Linked DNA regions of Homo sapiens. The protein of the gene in region 2 interacts with the protein of the main gene of each other region in a pairwise test. Each region holds a gene or a part of one and is shown on either strand. Other genes may lie near its edges.

Region 1 (7,495 bases), on a different chromosome or scaffold from region 2:
TGTGGGAACTGAGGCTCTGAGCACCAACAATGTGACCAAGGGCGCCCAGCCGCCAGAGGCAGGGCCCTGGGCCTCGGACTCCTGCCTTTTCCGCTGCCCTGTTCCGTGCCATCCCTGCAGTGGCCTATGCCCTGCCCCGGGAGGCCCCCTCCAGCCCTCAAGGACTCTGGTTTGCGAGTTTGTCCCAGTGCCAGGCCTCTCAGCACTGGGCTCCCTGAGGGCAGATGTGGGTTTATTCTTCTTTGCCTTTTAGCTCCCAGTGAGCCTGGGTCAGGCTTGGCCATGACAGGGTCATCCAATGAGGGTGCCTCCCTGAGAGGGGGCCGCAGCTCTGCCTCCTGCTCCTTCTGTCCTGGCCCACTTACCCTTTGGTGAGGGTGGCACAGCCGGGAGGAGAGGGGCCCCTCCCAATATCTGGGGCCTGGGGCTGGGCCACAGCTGCCCGCAGTGGCTTACTGCACCGGGTTGGGTTCTGCAGTGACTGCCCGGCCCATCAGGGTGGGGTCTGAATCATCTGCCCTCCCCTGTACCTCTGCCTGCCCCAGAGTTAAGTTTTCTGGGCCCCTGAGCTGTTCACCCTTTCACAAGTTAGCCCAGAGTGAGACATGCACACACACTGTGGCTCCCCTCAAGGCGTCCCCAGCGGCTGTGGGTTCAGTATTAAACCATCCTAAGTCCTCAGCGGCCTTCAGGGCAGGACTGGACATCCCTGAGGCCCTCTAAGAGATGCTCAGCCTGAAGCCTGGACAAGAAAAGAGGCTGGCGGCAGAGCCATCCAGGCCTGCAAGGCCGGGGCAAAGGTGAGCACCGCGCCTCTTTCTCTAGGGCCAGGTCTCCCAGGGGCCCAAGCCTCTGCCCTGCCCACGGGCCCTCCCCATTGAATCCTGTCTCAGCCCGGCTTCTGGGGCAGTGGCCACCCCAGGGTCTGGGGGCTGGGGTCCCCGAGGTGCTGGAGAAGCCCTTCTCAGGCCAAGGGCAGGAAGGCGTAGCCTGCTTCTAAGGCGTGCAGCCTGGAGGAGGCCACAGCAGCGCCAACACATGCAGGTCAGACCTGTTGTGGCACAGGGACTGGGAGGCAGCCCTGAGCCAGCAGGGAAAGGGTGGGGACAGCAGGGTTCCTAGAGGGAAATGACTTCCTTGCAGCCTCGGGGTGTAGCCGCCACACCCACATGCTACACAATACAGGCTGCAGGCTCAGGCCTCCCAGGCATCATTACACAGGCAGGTACAGGCCTGGAGAGCTGAGCCCAGCTCTTCCTCCCACTGTCCCTGGCCACAGCCCCTCAGGCAGTGCTGATTCCCACACTGTGACTGCCATATGAGCCCAGGGCTTCACGGAGGAGATTGCTCAGCACAGGAGCCCGGCGGGAGATGATTTCATTCTGCCCGTTTCCCAGATGAGAGACCAGGCACAGAAGGCTGTGGAACTTCCCCATCCCGCGGACAGCACTGGGAGGGCCAGGACAGGGCCCTGCTCTGCAGGCCCTGCCTTTAACCTCCATGGCAGCCTCCACGCAGAAGCTACAAAATGGCAGTTAGAGGGTTGGCGAGGCACCCAAGAGTGTTTGGCTTCATTTGTTTAGAAAGTTTTAAAAGTAGGAGCCAATGTTAGAAACAACGAGATTTCCCATAAAAGTTAGGAATTTGTGTTTATCATTAGATGTATCACGATGGGCTGGGCCCAGCGCTCAGGACACCTACTCTCCAGGCGGCCCGGACCCCACCAGGCTGCCCCGACTTTATGTACCAGCAGGTCCCTGGAGTGTGTGACTGCCACCCTGAATGCCATCACACTGCAGCACAGGCAGTTTCCCCCCCACAGGGACACACACACACACACACACACACACACACACACAGGCCATGCCCACCCACCCACAGGCTCAGAGCTCCCCTGGCCCCCATCCCAACCCCTGGGGACCCCTCTGGGCACACCTGCTCCTGTCCACTATCCTCTCCCGCTGTCACATCTCCTCCCCTCAGGGACCCAGGCCCTTCCTCGCCCCAGAGAGGCAGCTGGCCAGAAGTCTGGGGACCCCAGGCCCTTGGCTGTTCTGTCTCCCTGAGAAATCAGGGTCGAGTAGACAGACATACCTCCCCTCCTGTCCCTCCTGCTGTCCTTCCCTCAGCCCCCAGGATGGAGACTCCAAGCCTTCACTGCCAGCTCTGTTTCGGACAGCAACAACCATGCCACCTGTGCCTGGTCCTTGTCCTCAGGGTGTGGCAAGGCCATGGGGGCAGAGGAGAAGCCCTGTCCCTGCTCCTGGGAGTCACCAGGAGCCCCAGAGCCCCAGTCCCAGCCAGAGGGCCACCCCAGAGGCTGAGCCATGGGAAAGAGGGCGGATGCTGCAGGAGGTGGCAGTGTTGGGCACAGCCCTGGGGCTGGTGGGTGAGGCCTGTAGAGCTTCCTGAAGGAAGGCGCCTGGGGCTGACTTTGGGAGGAAGGCAGGCCTGTGCTTGGCCAAGAGAAAAGGAAAATCAGGGACTCCCCAGCCCCAGATGGACTGTGGCACCGCATAGAGCAAGCCCTGCCTGGAGCCGGGATGGCGTCTGCCTCTCAGGGTGGCTTTTAAAAGTAGGAGCCAATGTTAGAAAGAACGAAATTTCACATAAAAGTCAGGAATGTTGGTTTATCATTAGATGCGCCATGATGGGCTGGGCCCAGCACTCAGGCTGGTGTCTACTCCACCTTCTTTGCAAACCCTGGAGGGGCCCAGCCCCAGAGGGCTACCAGCCACTGGCCTCTGCCCACTTCTCCCGCAGGCGCACCCAAGGCGCTCCTCTGGCCTGGAGGTCTGATGGGCACCACCCTTCTCTAGCTGCCCTGCCCCTTGGCTGCCAGCTGCCCCCGGCGCACCCCGGGGAGGCTGGGCACCTGTCCTGCGCAGCGTGGACAGAGGGACCGGGGCCTGTCAGCCTTCAGGGAGGGGAAGGGGAGACAAAAGCCACCGGCCCTGCCCGACCAGCTCCCCTGCGCGGCTGCCCAGCTGGGGCGGGCACTCACCCTCTCCCGGCCAGCCTCGGCTGCTGCTGTGCGCCCGTCCTGGACCTACCTCGGGGCGGACTCGCTCCCTCCGCGCCTGGGCTGCCGCTAGGAGATGGGGCTGCAGCGCGCGGGCGAGCAGGGACTGTCCGAGGGCGGGCGCGGGGGTTGGGGGGGTGGGGACGAGGCGGGCAGCGCTTTATGGGGCGGGCGCGCAGGTAGGAAGGAGGCGCTGGTGAGTCAGACCGGCTGCATTCCTTCGCGCGGCGCGCACCTGTCGGGGCAGGAGCTGGGTGCCGCCGCCGGAGCCGGGTCCGCCCCCCGGAAAGGGCTGCGGCTCCCGCGGCGCCCGCCCAGCGCCCCGATCGGCTAGCGGCGGGGGCCGGGGGAGGAGCCACCGCTCTCCCTCTCCCTCCGGTCCGGCCCTGGGCGCGGGGCCTCCCCACCCCTCCAGGCTCCGGGCTCCAGGCTCGGGTGCGCGGACTGCCCCGGGCTGGAGGCGGCCTCTTAGCCCCCGTCCGCACGGGAACCCTCCCTGCCCCGACTCTGGGCCGCTAGCCAACGCCGGGCTGTGCTGCTGCTGCTGCCCCGACGGTCGTCAGCCGCGTACCCCCCTCCCCGCTCTCCGTGCCAGCGCGAGGCATGGGCCCAGGGAGTGCCCCCGGCCCGGTCGGGAGGCCTGACTCCCCGTCCCAGCTCTGCTCTGCAGTTCACGGGGTCCTCTCAGCCTCCAACCCCTAACCTCACGTTGTATCCAGAGGGAGAGCCGAGGAAGGGTCGGGTCCTCGGTGCACCCTTCAACAAGCTACTTAAATCTCCTTACAGTGTGAACAGTGATACCCTGGAGAGGTCAGTGCCGACCTGGCATGGATTGGCACTCGATGCCTTGTTACAGTTGTTCTTAACAAGCTGGTTACAGAGCTGGCCCCTCCCTCCCGTCAGTCCTCTGAGAGCAGTCTCTCCATTGCCACTGCTTACCACGGGTGTTCAGGTCAGAGAAGGGCTTCATTTTTCTTTTTCTTTTTGTTTTCTCTCTCTTTTTTTTTTTAGATGGAGTCTCACTCTGTCGCCGAGGCTGGAGTGCAGTGGTGCAATCTTGGCTCACTGCAACCTCTGCCTCCCGGGTTCAAGCGCTTCTCCTGCCTGTTTCCCGAGTAGCTGGGATTACAGGTGCCCGCCACCACGCCCGGCTAATTTTTGTATTTTTAGTACATCATGTTGGCCAGGCTGGTCTCGAACTCCTGACCTCAGGTGATCCACCCGTCTTGGCCTTCCAAAGTGCTGGGATTATAGGCGTGAACCACCATGCCCAGCCAGGGCTCCATTTTTCTCTAGGCTTACTGGCCAGCAATGCCAAACAACACCAGACTGCTGGCACAGCACTGTCCAAACCATGCGGTTTCAAGCCACCGTGCTTTTTCAACAGGCTGGTCCCTTCCCATGACATTGAGCCCAGTTTATCCTTCTTGTCCTTGAAGACGTTGCACCAACCACGTGCTAGAGAGCCTTCCTTGACCTCTCCACACCCCAAGTTGGTTTATGTGTCCCCATAACCCTTGGGCCATGGCTTTTACATGGCATTTGCCACATTGGTTTGAAATGATGTTTAGGAATCTCGCCACACTGTTGGACTGTGACTCCAAGGGCAGCTACTCTCTAGCACCTAGCACCATGCCTGGTGCATAGCAGGTGCTCAATAAAAGGGTGGTTGAGTGAATGGGATGGTCACACAGCCTCCCTGAGCCTCCATGCTGTCATCTGTAAACAGATTCCTCCACTGCTACCTCTCAGAGTGATTGCAGGGGTGCTGGTTGCAAATGTGTGAGTCGCCACCTTTCCTGGTCATCTGAGAGCTGTTCTGCACAGAGAAAGTGTTCAGAGAGGCTTGCTCCTGGATTTGGGAACAATGTGGAAGGAGTCCCAGTTTGGTTGAAGCACTCAGATCTGTGTGTGTCAGGCCAGCACAAGTGCCCTGTGGACCTGAGTCACTCCAGCAGGTACCTATCCACCCCAAAAAACAGAAACATGGAGCAGGAGCTCAGAGAACGGCCAAAAACAGCTTGCCTGAGGGGCCTGGGTCTGCCAGCAGCACCCATTAGAGAACTAGGGGGTCATATACACCCCACTGTGGGTGGGGGCTGAGGCTTCTTCCTAGAGAAGACCCAGGTCCAGAGCTGGCGATGCCCCAGGCCACTGGGCTCAGCAGCCCCTTCCTCTCTTCATTGCAAACCCTTCTGAAAATGACTAGGGGGCCTGGAGCCCTGTAGCAGCTGAGAGGCGAGATGTCAACCCAGGGAGGTCTCACTAAGTAAGATAAGCCATGAGCTTCCTTGGCTTCTCGGAGTCCTGGGGTTCATTACCTGGAGCCCGCATGTGGACTTGGCAGTGGGGAGTCCCTGAACCATCTCAGATCTTGTGCAAACTTTGAGGAGTATCTGATTTCAGAATGTGGGTTTGCTGGGAGGGGAGCCTTAGCTTACACTGGATTCCCAAATAGGTTACTGGCCCCAGAAGTTTAAATATTGCATGTGATTTTTTTTGTTGTTGTCATTGAGATGGAGTCTTACTCTATTGCCCAGGCTAGAGTGCAGTGGTGCGATCCTGGCTCACTGCAACCCCTGCCTCCTGGGTTCAAGCGATTCTCCTGCCTCAGCCTCCCGAGTAGCTGGGATCACAGGTGCACACCACCACGCCTAGCTAATTTTGTATTATTAGCAGAGTTGGGGTTTCACCATGTTGGCCACGCTGGTTTCAAATTCTTGATGTCAAGTGATCCACCCACCTCAGCCTCCCAAAGTGCTGGGATTACAGGCGTGAGCCACTGCTCCCAGCCTGCATGTGAATTTTATAAAACTAAAATAAACCCCACTATCTCTGCAGCCTTAGGGCCAGAGTGAGGTTGGCTCATAGGGGGCTTCCTAGGCTCTGCAAGAGAGGTGAGGCCCCTGGAACAGGACCGAGCCCAAGGACCTTGGATTGTTGCTCCTCCACTCCCCTGCACTCCTCATGTGGCCTCCAGTAGGTCAGACTTGTTCATTCATTAGTTCAATTATTTATTCATTTTATGAGCAGTTAATGAGCTCCTATGCCAAATGCTGGGGATACCAAGATGAACGAGAACTACGGCCTGCTTCCTTCACTCCCAGTTCAAACCAGGGGTCTCCAAAGTAGGCTGAGTATTCTCGAGGTAGGTGCTAGCTGAGACCCTATTCTTTTTTTTTTTTTTTCTTTTGAGATGGAGTCTCACTCTGTCGTCCAGGCTGGAGTGCAGTGGTGCAATCTCGGCTCACTGCAACTCTGCCTCCTGGGTTCAAGCGATTCTCCTGCCTCAGCCTCCTGAGTAGCTGGGATTACAGGCACGCACCACCATGCCCAGCTAATTTTTGTATTTTTAGTAGACATGGGGTTTCACCATGTTGACCAGGCTGGTCTTGAACTCCTGACTTCAGGTGATCCGTCTGCCTTGTCCTCCCAAAGTGTTGGGATTACAGGCGTGAGTCATTGCGCCCAGCCCTGAGCCCCTATTCTTATACTTGAGAATGTACATTACTTATTGGTAGATTGGCACCTGTTTTATAAAAGAACAAGTTAAAGAATAAATAGACAGGGGATGTGTGGTGGAAAGAGTCCAGTGACCTGTCTGGAGAGCCCGCATCAACCACATGTTCAGACTGGGGGCAGAGGCCTCTCCGGTGCAGAATCCTGGGGTTTGTTTTCTCCTCAGAGCCAAGGGGTTGCTCAATAGGCCCCCTCTTTTTTGAGACAGGGTCTTACTCTGCTGCCTAGGCTGGAGGGCAGTGCCACGATCGAGGCTCCCTGCAGCCTCAACCTCCTGGGCTCCAGTGATCCTCCCACCTCAGCTTCCTGAGTAGCTGAGACTACAGGTGTGTGCCACAAATCCTGGATAAGTTTTTAATTTTTATTTTGTAGAGACAGAGTTTCACCATGTTGCTCAGGTTGGTCTTGAACTCCTGGGCTCAAGCAATCCTCCCGTTTCAGCCTCCCAAAGTGCAAGGATTGCAGGCGTGAGCCACCATGCCCCAAAAAGTTGAAAGAATACAAAAATCACCCGTATTTTTACCAACTAGACTCAAGAATAATATTTTGCTGTATTTATTTATATATTTGTTAAACATTTGTATATTTTTAAATTTGAAGTTGCACTTATCCTGCCATTTCATCCTAAACACTCCAGCATGTATCTCTCAAGAACAGTCCCCCACGTAACCTCAATACCCCCCTTTATTTTTTTGAGACAGAATTTTGCTCTTGTTGCCCAGGCTGGAGTACAATGGTGCAATCTCGGCTCACTGCAGCCTCTGTCTTCTGGGTTCAAGCAATTCTACCTCAGCCTCCCGAGTAGCTGGGACTACAGGTGCATGCCACCACGCCCAGCTAAATTTTTGTATTTTTTGTAGAGACGGGGTTTCGCCGTGTTGGCCAGGCTGGTCTTGAACTCCTGACCTCAGGTGATCTGCCCGCCTTGGCCTCCCAAAATGCTGGGATTACAGG
Region 2 (8,327 bases):
AGAGCCAGTAAGACTGAGAAAACTTCTGGACCAGCTTCCTAAACTCTATGGAAAAACTCAGTGGGGGTCTTTCAGGGACCTGGTGGGAGAGAGACCTAAGCTGAGATTCCTTCTCGGCCTTTTATTAGCAGCTGTTAATTTACTTTGAGCTTTAATTTCTTTATCTGTAAAATGGAGATATTACTGCTTACTGGGGTTATTATGAGGATTAAGAGATAATATGCAAAGTGCTTAATGCCTGTCTGGCATGGGTACTTGCTGACTAAATGGTAGCTGTTAATGATCATTTAAAAAGCAGTAATTGTGTACCTACTGTGTGTCAGGTACCTTACAAGGTGTCTTAAACATTCTGTGATTCTAAGATTGCCTGAGAGTAAAGCCAAAGGTGGTTGTTTTTGGGTAATGATATTTTAAACTCAGTCATATTTATGAAACCCATGTTCAAAGCAACTTAACTTTAATAGGTCTTAATTAGACTTATAACAAAAGTGAGTTTAATGAACAGAGGACTTTGAGGAAGGAGAAGTAAAATATCAGATGCATGGGACGGTCAGATAAAAGCACGATCATAGAAGACCTATCATAAATGTTTGTAGTTCAAATTTTCTATAGTGCCTTTAACTATTCAGTCACATTTTAAACTCCAGTTATGACTTTTGCAGAATAATATTGTGTCAGAGAGCCCCAAAACATGTCGGGTGTTCCTAAAGCTTTGGAGACTATAAAATTGAAGTAGATACCATAAACTTCATCCAGGTTTTCAGGCTGTATATTAAAGAAGTTTCGGACTCCAAAAGATTACTCAATGGTCAGCCAAGTTGGTCCGCCGAGTGACTGAGGTCAGGGTCTGAGCACCTTGGACTCTTTAATTTCTCTTAGGTAGTTAAGATTGAGTCATTCCCAGAGGTGGAAGGTATGTGATGATGACTGTGGGTATATCCAGCCTATGAATCATCACTCTTAGCTCTTCTGGGAAGAGATGGATCTATATATGATCACAGGGAAGAACCTAGAAGAAGGAGATCTATAAGAGATAGTCTCATGAAGTCATTTTGGATTTCTGCCAACCCTCATTTTCTTCTTTATGGGGTCTCTCTCTCTGACCACCACTGTCTTCCAGAAATGCTCCAGGCCCGCGGTCTGTTCTGTTCTGACCCTTACTAGGTTTGTTCTTGACTTTTCTCAGACTTGTCATGTTCCATCTCTTAAAATCATATTTTCTGAACTAGAGATCATCTAGTCCAACTGCCTCTTTTTACAGATGAAGAAACTGAAGCTGAAAGTTCAGCTTGAGCAGAATCTTAACAGAATGTGGATTTGAATCTCTGACCCATGCTCATGCCATTTTTAAATGGAAAAGCCAGAAATGTTCTTCAGACCTAGAGAAATCGGCAAGCATCTGAATTTTGGAAGTGTACTATATTGTGTTGATTTATCAAACTGCTTCCCATATGCATAGGTCAGGGCTATCTATTTAAATATTGGTGCCTGGACTCTTACTATTGACTCTATTCCAGCTGGCCTTGGAACAAGTTCTGGGTCCGTCCTTCTTTGCCTGCCTCCACCCCATTCCCTTCTGAAAAAGCCCAGTGAAGTGTGGCTGTAGCTAGCCAAGAATCAGAGCTGTATTCAGGATGTGTACCTAAGCACTTGCTTCCTTGCATTTATTCACTCGGAGTGCCATGTGGCCCAGGGCCATCTTCCAGGGATTGCTGGGTCACCTTGAATGCTAAGAGTAGAGAAAAAGCCAAAACGGGCAGCGAGACTTACAGGAAGTCTTAGGACTCTGCAAGAAAGCAGAAATAGGCAAGTTTAATTTTAACACAGGCTGGTGTGAGACCAAGTAATGACAGGGTTGGGGAAAAAAAGGGTCAAAGTATTTATATGGTATAAATAATTTGTTGGGGAAGTCAGGATAAATGCTTATATAAAAGGATTCCTTTATTATAAAGAAGTGGTTATTCTGTGTTCTCAGTTATATAGACTCTCTTAGCATAACAATATATTGAGATTTAATTTAAGCTTTCATAACCAAATAGTACCAGAATTATGGCGCATGGTTTCCTGAAGACCTCGGCTCAACATATTACTGTGGACAGTGAGGCCAGTGAATTATTTGGTATTTTCAAGAGGGACAGTGAGACAAAACAGAAAATACTGTTGTAAGCTTAGATGACAGGGTCAATTGTGCCTGAAACACTGATTTAGTGCTGAATCAGCCCATTTTAAGAATATAATCATAGCTTAAGAACCAGTTTAAAATTTCCCCATCCTACACTAAAGCAATGTCTTTAACTCCTTTGGATGTCTGTAGCACATTGTGTCTGACAATTCTGATGTTTTGTGCTAAACTGTGATCCACTATCTTTAGGACATGATCTAATCTCTCCCAACTGGATTGTAGGTTATGTGAGGGCAGGGGTCTTACATTCATTTCTTTGCCTGCTAGCACCTAGCATATGCCTTGCAAATACAATAGAGACTGATATTATACACTCAGTTTAACCTGTGACATCAACTCTTCCTGCTGAGGGTGGAGAGAGGGAGAAATCCCTTTCTTTAACCCTTTGCCCTTCCTTGCTCAGGCCTTGGTGTCTTCTGCCTCTGAGGAAACGGAATCTGTAAGCTTAGCAAAGAAACGCACAAGACGTTAATTCTTGGTTTTTGATTTTTCAAAGGCGGGGGGTTCCAGCTAAGGGATTTTCATGAGTGTTTGTAAATTTCACCTGGCTTTTGCCCTAAAGGCAGACTTTAGAACCTAACCCCAGAAATACAGGCTGACCTACACTGCAGTGGGTACTCGGGACTTGCTGAGGTGGTTGGTTGTTATGAGGCTGGACAGAGAAGGATGACTGTGGAATAGAGATCTTTCTGAAAGCAACTTGACAGGGGTGTGGGGGTCAAATGGAAGTGTGCAGTACACGTGTGAAGTCACTTGTGAATTGATAGCGGCAGGTTTATTTCTTCAAGGATAGTAAGGGAATCTTGGATATATTTAACTCTTTCGGTAGGATGGTGGGAAGGCTGCTTACCTGCTCCGGGGGTGAGCCTAGGAGCCATAGCATGGGATCTGGGGATCTGTGTAGCACCCCCGCTGGCTCCTGGGAGGATGGTAAAGATTACGTACTGCAGCAGTGGGAAGTGGACGTAGTCTCAGCCCCCGGTGCCCATCTTCCCTTTCTGGGCTTGGGTACAACTCTGGAATCAAATAACTTTATATCTGGAAGGAAGCTTAGGGGTTCTGAAACCTGGCTGGTCTTCAGGGTAACTACTTGGGCAACCTTTTATAAAAGTGTGATTCTCAGCCCAGCCTAGATCTGTTACGTCAGTTTCCATAAGTGTGCTCCAAGAAGCTGTTCTTAAAGTCTTCTTCGTTTGAGTCAGACTAGCTTTTCTCCTTTACACAGAAGGCAGAGTGTAATGTAGTGACTAAGAGCAGAGCCTAGAGCCAGGTAGGATCAAACCCTTTTCTGCCATTGACTAGCTATGATTTTGTGCAGGATTCCTAACCTTCCTAGGCCTTCCTGCCTTCAGCTGTGAAGCTAGTATCCTCGCACATTAGAATAGTCCTGGTCCAGAGTGAGCATTTTGTGTTTGTTAAATAGATGAGGAAACCAAGGCTGTAAGAGGTGCAGTGGTGGCGGCATGTCTAGCAAACTTGGTCTTCAATCTGCATCTTCCCTGCTTCCCGGCCTGTGCTGTGTATGTGCTTTCTCCTTTTAGGTTTGGTTTTCATCACGTTTAAAGGTTTGGTTTTCATCACATTCTCCCTTTCTTCCATTCCACTCTCCAGTTGAAAAGTGCATCTCAGAAGAGCCATGCCTTCTACTTAGCAGCCCTTCGTAGCTACTAAGCCATAGATAAATCCCAGTGAGGTCTCAGTGTTCAGAGATGAGTGGACAGATGGGTGCATAGACATGACGGGGCAGTGACTGTGAGCTGGATACCCATGGAGGGTGGGTGGTGCAGTTATAGGTTGGGCTTACTGCTAAGGAATACCACCTGTCTGGTTTCCAGGCCTTCTTAGACCTCTATGACCTTGAAAGCACCCCCACACCTCCATCCCTAGGAGGCTGGATAACTTGCACAACACCCAGGGCAGGTTTGAAAACGATTTATTTTTCTTAGTTTTTTGCTTGGCACTAATGTTTGCTAGGAAGGAGCTTGTGGATTATTGATGACAAAACTGCCTAAGGTTGGAAAGTATGTGGGCAAATATGGAAGTAGTGTTTCCTTCACAGGTTTGTTAAACTGGCATTTAGATTTGCAAACACTGATCTCTTGGAATTAAGTTAAAAGGCTAATTGTTAATTAGCCCTGAACTGGGGCAGGTAGATGGGCCTCTCACCAGTGCAGGTCCCTGTCAACTAATAACAGGGTTTGATAACCACCATCAAATCTGCTATCTGGCTTTTCTGCTTAGATAAACAAGGCAAGACGATCTCAAACCAGCATACCGATTCCGAGGTTGGCATGTTTGTAGAAGACTGTTCTCAGGCCGCAGTGTGGCAGCAGACCCTCCCCAGTTCAGCCCCATGCCAGATTCCAACGTTGGATCCCACTGTCGCTTCATCTCATCCTAAATTGGCAGAAAGACTGTTTAGAAAACTAAGTCTCTAAAACCAATTAAATGGTAAAGAAGACTGTTCTGAATTAGGGGGAATGGGATGAAGTACCACTAAACGCAAGTCACAAAGGGCAAAAACTCATGACATGGAGCCGTGGGTATCTGCTTGCATGTTTATTTGCCAAGCGGCTAGTATATTTTGCATGTCATACAATCTGAAACTTACTTTTTTGAAAAGCCATTTCAGATATAGTATAAGAAAAGCCTTTGAGAGAAACATGCTTTCTAAGCCTGGGAGTACAGAAATAAAAATAAACTTTGCAATAATTTGAAAGGGGCACACTGGTTAGTTGAAGAGTAAGGAAGCACCCAGTAATGCCTCTTTACCCAAGAGCTCTGTTTGCTTTGCTCGGTGATATCAATGTCACTGTGGTTTCTTCATTTTGAAAAGGAAGTTCATTTGTACTGAGGTGGTTTTAAGTGTGTGTGTGTGTGTGTGTGTGTGTGTGTGTATGATGCAAATGATAATAAACATTTCAGACCCAGAGGGCAGAATGTCACTGAACCTAAGCCCTCCTGAGCCAAATAACTCCTTTGTCCTTGCAGAATCAGGAGCCCTTCTCTTCAGGATATGCTGCCATTATGATAAAGCATTGTGATGTAAAGTTAACGAGAGGATCCTTATCCAAGTGAATCACAGCCAAGGGGTGGAATGGTTGGCCTCTGGTAGGGATGCCCCATTCAGCAGCACTGAGAGTTTGGAGTTGTTCTGTTCTCTTTCCTTCTTGCTGAGGGTAGTAAGAAATCCTCCCTAGGCCCCATTCCCCTGATATATCTTGCGGGTGATGGCCTCTTACTGGCAGTGTGATTATGTATGTCCCTTTAGAACAAAGGTATCGAAACAATAAAAGTTGTGAAATGGAAATGTTTACAATTCTACAAGGCTCCAGAGAGATTAGAGATAGGTAGGAAAAAGGCCATTGTTTTCCAATCAAAGGTGCTGAGAACCTGTTGATTGGACCTAAGGAATCCAGCTTTGCCACGACACAAAACCCAAGAGTTTTGTTTCTTTTTTTTTTTTTTTTTTTTTTTTGTTGAGACAGAGTCTCACTCTGTTTGCCCAAGCTGGAGTGTAGCGATGCGATTTCAGCTCACTGCAGCCTTGACCTCCTTGGGCTTAGGCAATCCTCCCACCTCTGCCTCCCCAGTAGCTGGGACTGCAAGTGTGCAGCACCACACCCAGCAATTTTTTTGTGTTTTTAGTAGAGTCAGAATGCTACCATGTTGGCCAGGCTGGTCTCGAACTCCTGGATTCAGGCAATCAGCCTGGCTTGGCCTCCCAAAGTGTTGAGATTACAAGCGTGAGCCACCATGCCCAGCCCCAAGAGTTTTCAAAAAAGGAAGAGTTCAAAGAGGCTCAGAAATGATCAAGTGGACATACAGAGACATAATTTTAGGAAAGGGATATTATTAATATTTGCCAGTGAGTCCTCGTTACTGCTGGTGAGACTAGGCCCAGGTACCGACTTAAGGCGATACTTTGAAAAAGTTGAGAGGTGGCTTAAAGACCTGGGTGATGAATGAAGAAGACCTCCATGACTTTACAAGTGCAAAGAGAGATGGGTCTGGGCACTGCTGGGCCTTTTAGAGGCTCAAGGACAGTGGCCTTGGGGAAGGCTGAAGGAGACACCTATTGAATTAGATGGTGCCAAGGCTGAGGGAGGACTTTCGGGAATCCCAGACTAGAGAAGTGTTTTAATGCCAAGAACATGGGAAACCCATTTCAGATACTGTATCAGATAAGCCAGCTTAGAAAAGCACCTTCTAAGGCTTGCCCTATATTTAGAAAGGGCTGCTACAGAGGTTAACTGAGAAGGGGTTGTAGGAATGTGGAGAGGCGTTGTGAGGATCCTCATTCAGGATGATCTGGGAGGTAAGCTCTGAGAGACAATGATACCTCTCCCCAAGCTTAGCAGCCATGCCAGAAGCCAGCTGAGAAGGTTTTTCAATATCATAGAATATGTAAGCTCTGTAAGCTCATTTATTTCTCTCTGTGTGTGTACATGTTTTAACCCAAAAGAAATAGGGATTTTTGTCTGTATTCGAACATGCAGGGAATGTGGTCTGGACCTGCCAGAGAAACCGTGGCCAGCTTTTTGGGGTTTTCCTATAGAAATTGTTCATTCAACAGATATTCACTGAGTATTTACTATGTATTTGGCACTGTTCTAGTGCTGGGGCTACAGCAGCAAACAAAATAGACAAAATCCCTGCCTATGTTCTGATCGGGGAGACAAACCATAAACAAAAAGGTGTATTATGTTAGATAGTAATAATTAATGCAGAAGTGTTAATGCAAGAGAGGGGAGAATGGTTGATGTGATCTGCAAAAATATAAAGTAGAGAGGGAACAGGGAGTGCAGATGGGGAGGGAAGTGGTCAGCAGTAGGGCTGCCTGGGAAGACTTTGCTGAGAAGGTGAAGCTGCATTCCTGGCAGAGAGAATGGCAAACACAAAGGCCCTGAGGCAGAAGCATGTTCAGGCAAAGCAGTGAGTCTCCTTGGAGGCAGATTGTATAGGGCCTTATGGATCATCGAATGACTGGCTTTTACTCATGAATGAGATGGGGAGCATTTGTAGGTTCTGAGAAGAGTAGGACATGTCCTCACTTGGATTTTAAATGGATTTCTCTGGCCTGCAGCCTTGAGAGTAGACTGTATGAGGACAAAGATAGAAGTAATGATACTGACTAGGAGGCTCCTGTAATAAACAGATAAGAGATGGTGATTTGGACCAATGTGGCAGCAATGAATATAGTAAAAAGTGCTTGGATTCAGGATATGTCTTGAAAGTAGAGTCAACAGGATTTCCTGGGGACTAGGTATCAGTTGGGACAGACAGAGTAGAGAAGAATGTGTCCAAAGTTTTTGACCTGAGCAGCTGGAAGGATGGAGTTGTATTATGGTTTGGGGAGAGATGTGAGAGTAATAGATTTTGGGGGCAGGGCAGGAGTATGGTTTTAGATATGTCAGGTTTGGAGTGTCTAGACAGCCAAGTGAGTTATTTAGGCAGTTGAGTAAGCAGCTGAGTCAATTAAAAAAATTGAATTTAAAAGCCTGAAGTTCAGTTGGAAAGGTTTGATTGGTGATGCAAGTAGAGGAGCCTCTAGGTTGTGTTTAGAATGATGAACTGATGAGGGCACCAAGGACGGGGATGGAGGCCTGAGCCCTATGGTGTTCTTACACATGGAGGTTAGGGAGAGCCCTGGAGACTGACACCCATGGCAGGAGGAGAGGGAGGGAGTGTGTGGTCCTGGAAACCACATGATGGGGTTTCAAAGAGGAAGTGAAAGATCAGTTATATCAAATGACACTTACTGAGATTTGATCGCTAGATTGGCAATGTAGAAGCCACTGGTGACCTTGTGAGAGCACTGATGGGGAGGAGTGGGAGCAATGCCTAATTGGAGTGGGTTTGTGAGAGAACAGGAGAGAAGGAATTGGAGACCATAGGAACTCTTGAGGGGTTTTGCTGTAGAGGGGAGCAGAGCCATGGCAACAACTGTAAGGGGAAATAGTGGGTTTTTGTTTCGTTTTGTTTAAGATGGGAGAAGATTATAGTGAGCTGGTTTGATGAAGATGATTCAGTCAAAAAGGAAAAGTTAATGCAAGAGAGGGGAGAACTGTTGGTGTGACCTCACCAACTGAGTAGGTGAGAGGACGTACCGTGGGGGAGGTGGCCTGATGACTGGAGCAAGGGT
Region 3 (3,538 bases), on a different chromosome or scaffold from region 2:
GCCCTAAGGAGGCCCTGCTGTCCAGGCAGTGCTGCCAGCAAGCACCCCAGGTCAGATGTCCCTGCTGCCCAGATATCTGGCGTGGTGTCCTCTGGTAGGGGAGAACGGGTCTGCCTGAGGGTCTACAGTTCTGAGCCTTAAGGACAGGAACCTGGGCAGTGGGGGGCACAATCAGTGACCGAGCCCTGGCTCCCATCTCCAGGGTACCTCTGCCAGACACCAGGCTCTGGTACCTCCTACCCTCTGGCCCCCAGCAGGGCCTATAGGCTCCTCCATGTAAACCCCCTCACCCTACTGCCCCCACCCCACCTGCCTGACACCTCTTACCTGGGCACGGCCCCCAGTCTGCACCCTTCCCACGTCTGCTCCCCACCATGGCCAGAAGGGTTTTGGAAACCATTTTTCCTCTCCCCCAGGGGCTCTGAACACACCATCTCACCATTTAGGAACATGTTCAGTTCTTTCTGCTGAGGCCTGTGCTCAGCTGTCCCTGGCATCAGACCTCCCTTCCCTGGAGCCCCATGGGGGGTGTGTCCTCCTGGCTCTGCCCTTCTTTGTCCTGACACTGGGCGGGGCGGGGGTGGGTCTGTCTGCCCTGCTGGATGCGAGGGCCCTGAGAACAGACCACCATCTGTTACCAGCACAGCGAGCTCGTCCATCTGCTCTACAAGTGTTTATTGAGCACCTGTATGTGGCAGGGATGGTTGTAGGCATCTGGGTACAGCAGTGAACAAAACCAGGAAGGCCCTGCCCCGCAGAGGCACATGAACAGGGCAGTGCACAGTGACCACGTGGCATTTCGGGTGGTGGTGACTGCGGTGGGGAAGACAGCAGGGGCGCTGTCGAGGGAGACGAGGGCTGGGTTGGGAGGGGCAGAGGCCCAGGCCCAAGGGTCAGAGCTCACCTGGCTTCCCCAACTGGGATGGGGCCATGTGGCTGCAAGGCAAGGCCCCAGTTCCTGAAGGGCCTGGGGTGTGAAGGGTTTCTCCCCCTGCTGGGAACGCTCGGCCTTGCGCCACTCAGCAAGGCCCCTTCCAACCTGCATCTGACCACCAGGCAGAGAGTGTGTCTGGGGAGCCCCACAAAACACCCCCCAAACTTCGCCCCGCCAGCCCCCCTCACCTCCCCTGCTGGGCATTGGTGCGCAGCAAAAGGCACTTGAAGCTGCCTCTGAGGTTGGGGTCCCCAGAGGTTATGGTGATGGCACAGGGTGGGTGTCATCAGGGAGCCCAGCCCCTGGTACTCAGTGGTCTCAGCTCAGTAGTTGGGTGCAGCAGCAGCAAGGCCCAAGGCAGGGTCAGTAGTGCTCCAGCTTGAGACTCCTGTACAGGCAGCACGTGAAGATCATGCCAAAGACCTGTGTGCAGAGCCGGGTGGGCGTAAGCAGACGTCATGGGGCCACCAGCCACCGCCCTGCCCCGTGTCCCCAACAAGATGACCGCCACCCCCATGTGCCCTCACCTGCACACAGGCAATGCCGATCCCCACAGCCCCAATGACCCTCAGGTGCTCCTGGATGAAGGTCTCCAACTTGGTGATGCAGCCGCCCTGCGGGGCGCGGATGGGTGTTGAAGGCGGGCCCAGGGGGCACCTCCCACTGGCCCCTACTGCCTCCAGCCTCCAGGGTGTGGCCAAACCCACCCCTAGCACCTAGGCAGCCAGGCCACCAACAGCTCAGCCAGCCACTGGGCTGCCCACCCACTTCCTCGTAGATATTGGAGGTGTGGTCTCACTGCCCACATCCGGCCACTGGGGTGACCCCCCACCTCCTGGTAGATATTGGAGGCGTGTCCCACTGCCCACAGCCAGTCACTGGGGTGCCCCCCCACCACCTCGTAGACACTGGAGGCATGATCCCGCTGCACACCCACCTCCACCTTGTAGATGTTGGAGGCATGGTCTCGCTGCCCACAAAGAGCCACCACCGTCTTGCAGCAGCTGTCTGGGACCACACGGCCACCGGCCTCCTGTGAGCGGATCCACTCACTGTCTCGCCAGTCCTGTGAGTTGTTGCTGCCACAGCAGTGGAACTGCATCAAGAACAAGGCTGGGGTTGAGACCTGGGGCCAGAGGCTCCTGCAGAGGTCCAGGGAGGCCCTGGGGATGCACGCGCCCTCCCAGCACCACCCACCCACCTCCTGCTGCAGCTGGTCCACAGCGCTGGTCACAGCCTCATGGCCCGGCTGGTGGTAGCGCTTGGTCATGGTGTCCTTCAGGTTCTCCTTGAGCTCCGTGTTCAGCTGGGGTTGGGGTGCAGGAAACTTCAGCCTCAGTCTAAGACCTTCCAAGGTGGGGCTGGCAGAGCCCCAGGATGGCCGGTGGGGAGGCCCGGGGCCCAGCTCAGAGCCACAGGGAAGGGCTGAGGTCACACCTCGGCATGAGGGGAGGTTGGGTGGTGCCAGGACCGTCACCAGGGTGACAATGAAGTGCGGCAGAGGCAGAGAGAGCTTCTGGATCCCCTGGACACCTGCCTGACCCCATGTGCCCCTGCAGAGACCTAGACCCCATCTCCAGGGCCCAGTGGCACATTGGTTAGCTCTGGGACCATGGGGGTGGGGGTTGGGGCTAGCCACGCGTGTGCATGTGTGTGTGTCCGCCCCGCCTGTGCATGTCTGTGTCTCTGAATGGCCTGCCCAGGCCCCTCACCTGCTGGTAGTAGGCGTAGGCGAGGATACCAGCGATGATCTCCAGCAGAAAGATGATGAGGAGCAGGATGAAGTACTGGGGGGGGCAGCACAAGGGCACCCTTGTTCTGAGGCCTAGTGCCTAGACCTAGTGCACCTCAGAGCAGAGTCCCCACCCCGGCTCCCCAGGCTCCAGGTGGGGGCTGAGGGGCGGCCACCCTCCCTGAAGCTTTCTTGCGGAGCTGGTGTCTTCCCTCAGCTGGTCCAGCAGGAACGTGGGGACCCACAGGACTAGGCAGGTGTGGAAGGACCGTGACCCCCCCCCCAGGTGAGCACAGCAAGGCACAGGTTCAAAGCCTGCAGCGACAACCTCCTTGGGCCCATCTGCACCACCCCCACCCCGTGGCCCTGCGCCCTCCTGACCAGGCGCAGCAGGTTCCGACGCTCCTTGAAGGTGGCGCAGCAGCCCAAGACCCCAGTCACCATGACGACAGTGCCCGCCACCACCAGGATGTAGGCTGTGGCCAGGTAGGTGCCTGAGGCCAGCAGGCTGATGTAGTCACTCTTGAGGGCCAGCGTCCAGATGCCCACTGCCATGACAGCCAGGCCAGCCAGCTACAAGCAGTACACAAAGGTCATCGCATCTGCCCAGGTCTGATGGTGGCCCGGGAGGGGTGGGGGTGGGGGTGGGGGCAAGGCGACCCCTCCTCACCCAGAAGCAGCAATTGTAGGTAAACAGCAGGTACTTGAGGCAAACGGTGCCACATGTTGTCTTCTTCTCGTTGAACTCACCCATCCTGGGGCTGAGGAGGCAGGGGAGGGGTCAGCGGGGCCACAGCACCGGGCCCCTGACTGGGAGACGGATAGGAGGGGACACAGGGCCAGGCGCGGTGGCTCACGCCTGTAATCCCAGC

Evidence for each region.
Region 1: the proteins of ITGA6 (region 2) and ITGB4 interact in binary tests that used the Homo sapiens proteins (3 or more experiments, as listed by UniProt).
Region 3: the proteins of ITGA6 (region 2) and CD151 interact in binary tests that used the Homo sapiens proteins (3 or more experiments, as listed by UniProt).

The regions. Positions count from the first base shown.
Region 1 is NC_000017.11:75,717,122-75,724,616, reverse strand, and holds the start of ITGB4 (integrin beta-4 isoform 1 precursor), read right to left. Parts: upstream 3,159-7,495; 5' UTR 3,005-3,158; intron 2,339-3,004; exon of another isoform or gene 2,190-2,338; coding exon of another isoform or gene 2,095-2,189; intron 1-2,094. UniProt on the Homo sapiens protein: Integrin alpha-6/beta-4 is a receptor for laminin. Plays a critical structural role in the hemidesmosome of epithelial cells. Is required for the regulation of keratinocyte polarity and motility.
Region 2 is NC_000002.12:172,429,981-172,438,307, forward strand, and holds part of ITGA6 (integrin alpha-6 isoform b preproprotein), read left to right. Parts: intron 1-8,327. UniProt on the Homo sapiens protein: Integrin alpha-6/beta-1 (ITGA6:ITGB1) is a receptor for laminin on platelets. Integrin alpha-6/beta-1 (ITGA6:ITGB1) is present in oocytes and is involved in sperm-egg fusion.
Region 3 is NC_000011.10:835,952-839,489, reverse strand, and holds the end of CD151 (CD151 antigen), read right to left. Parts: intron 3,428-3,538; 5' UTR 3,421-3,427; coding exon 3,337-3,420; intron 3,240-3,336; coding exon 3,048-3,239; intron 2,722-3,047; coding exon 2,647-2,721; intron 2,241-2,646; coding exon 2,136-2,240; intron 2,031-2,135; coding exon 1,872-2,030; intron 1,549-1,871; coding exon 1,462-1,548; intron 1,358-1,461; coding exon 1,298-1,357; 3' UTR 659-1,297; downstream 1-658. UniProt on the Homo sapiens protein: Structural component of specialized membrane microdomains known as tetraspanin-enriched microdomains (TERMs), which act as platforms for receptor clustering and signaling.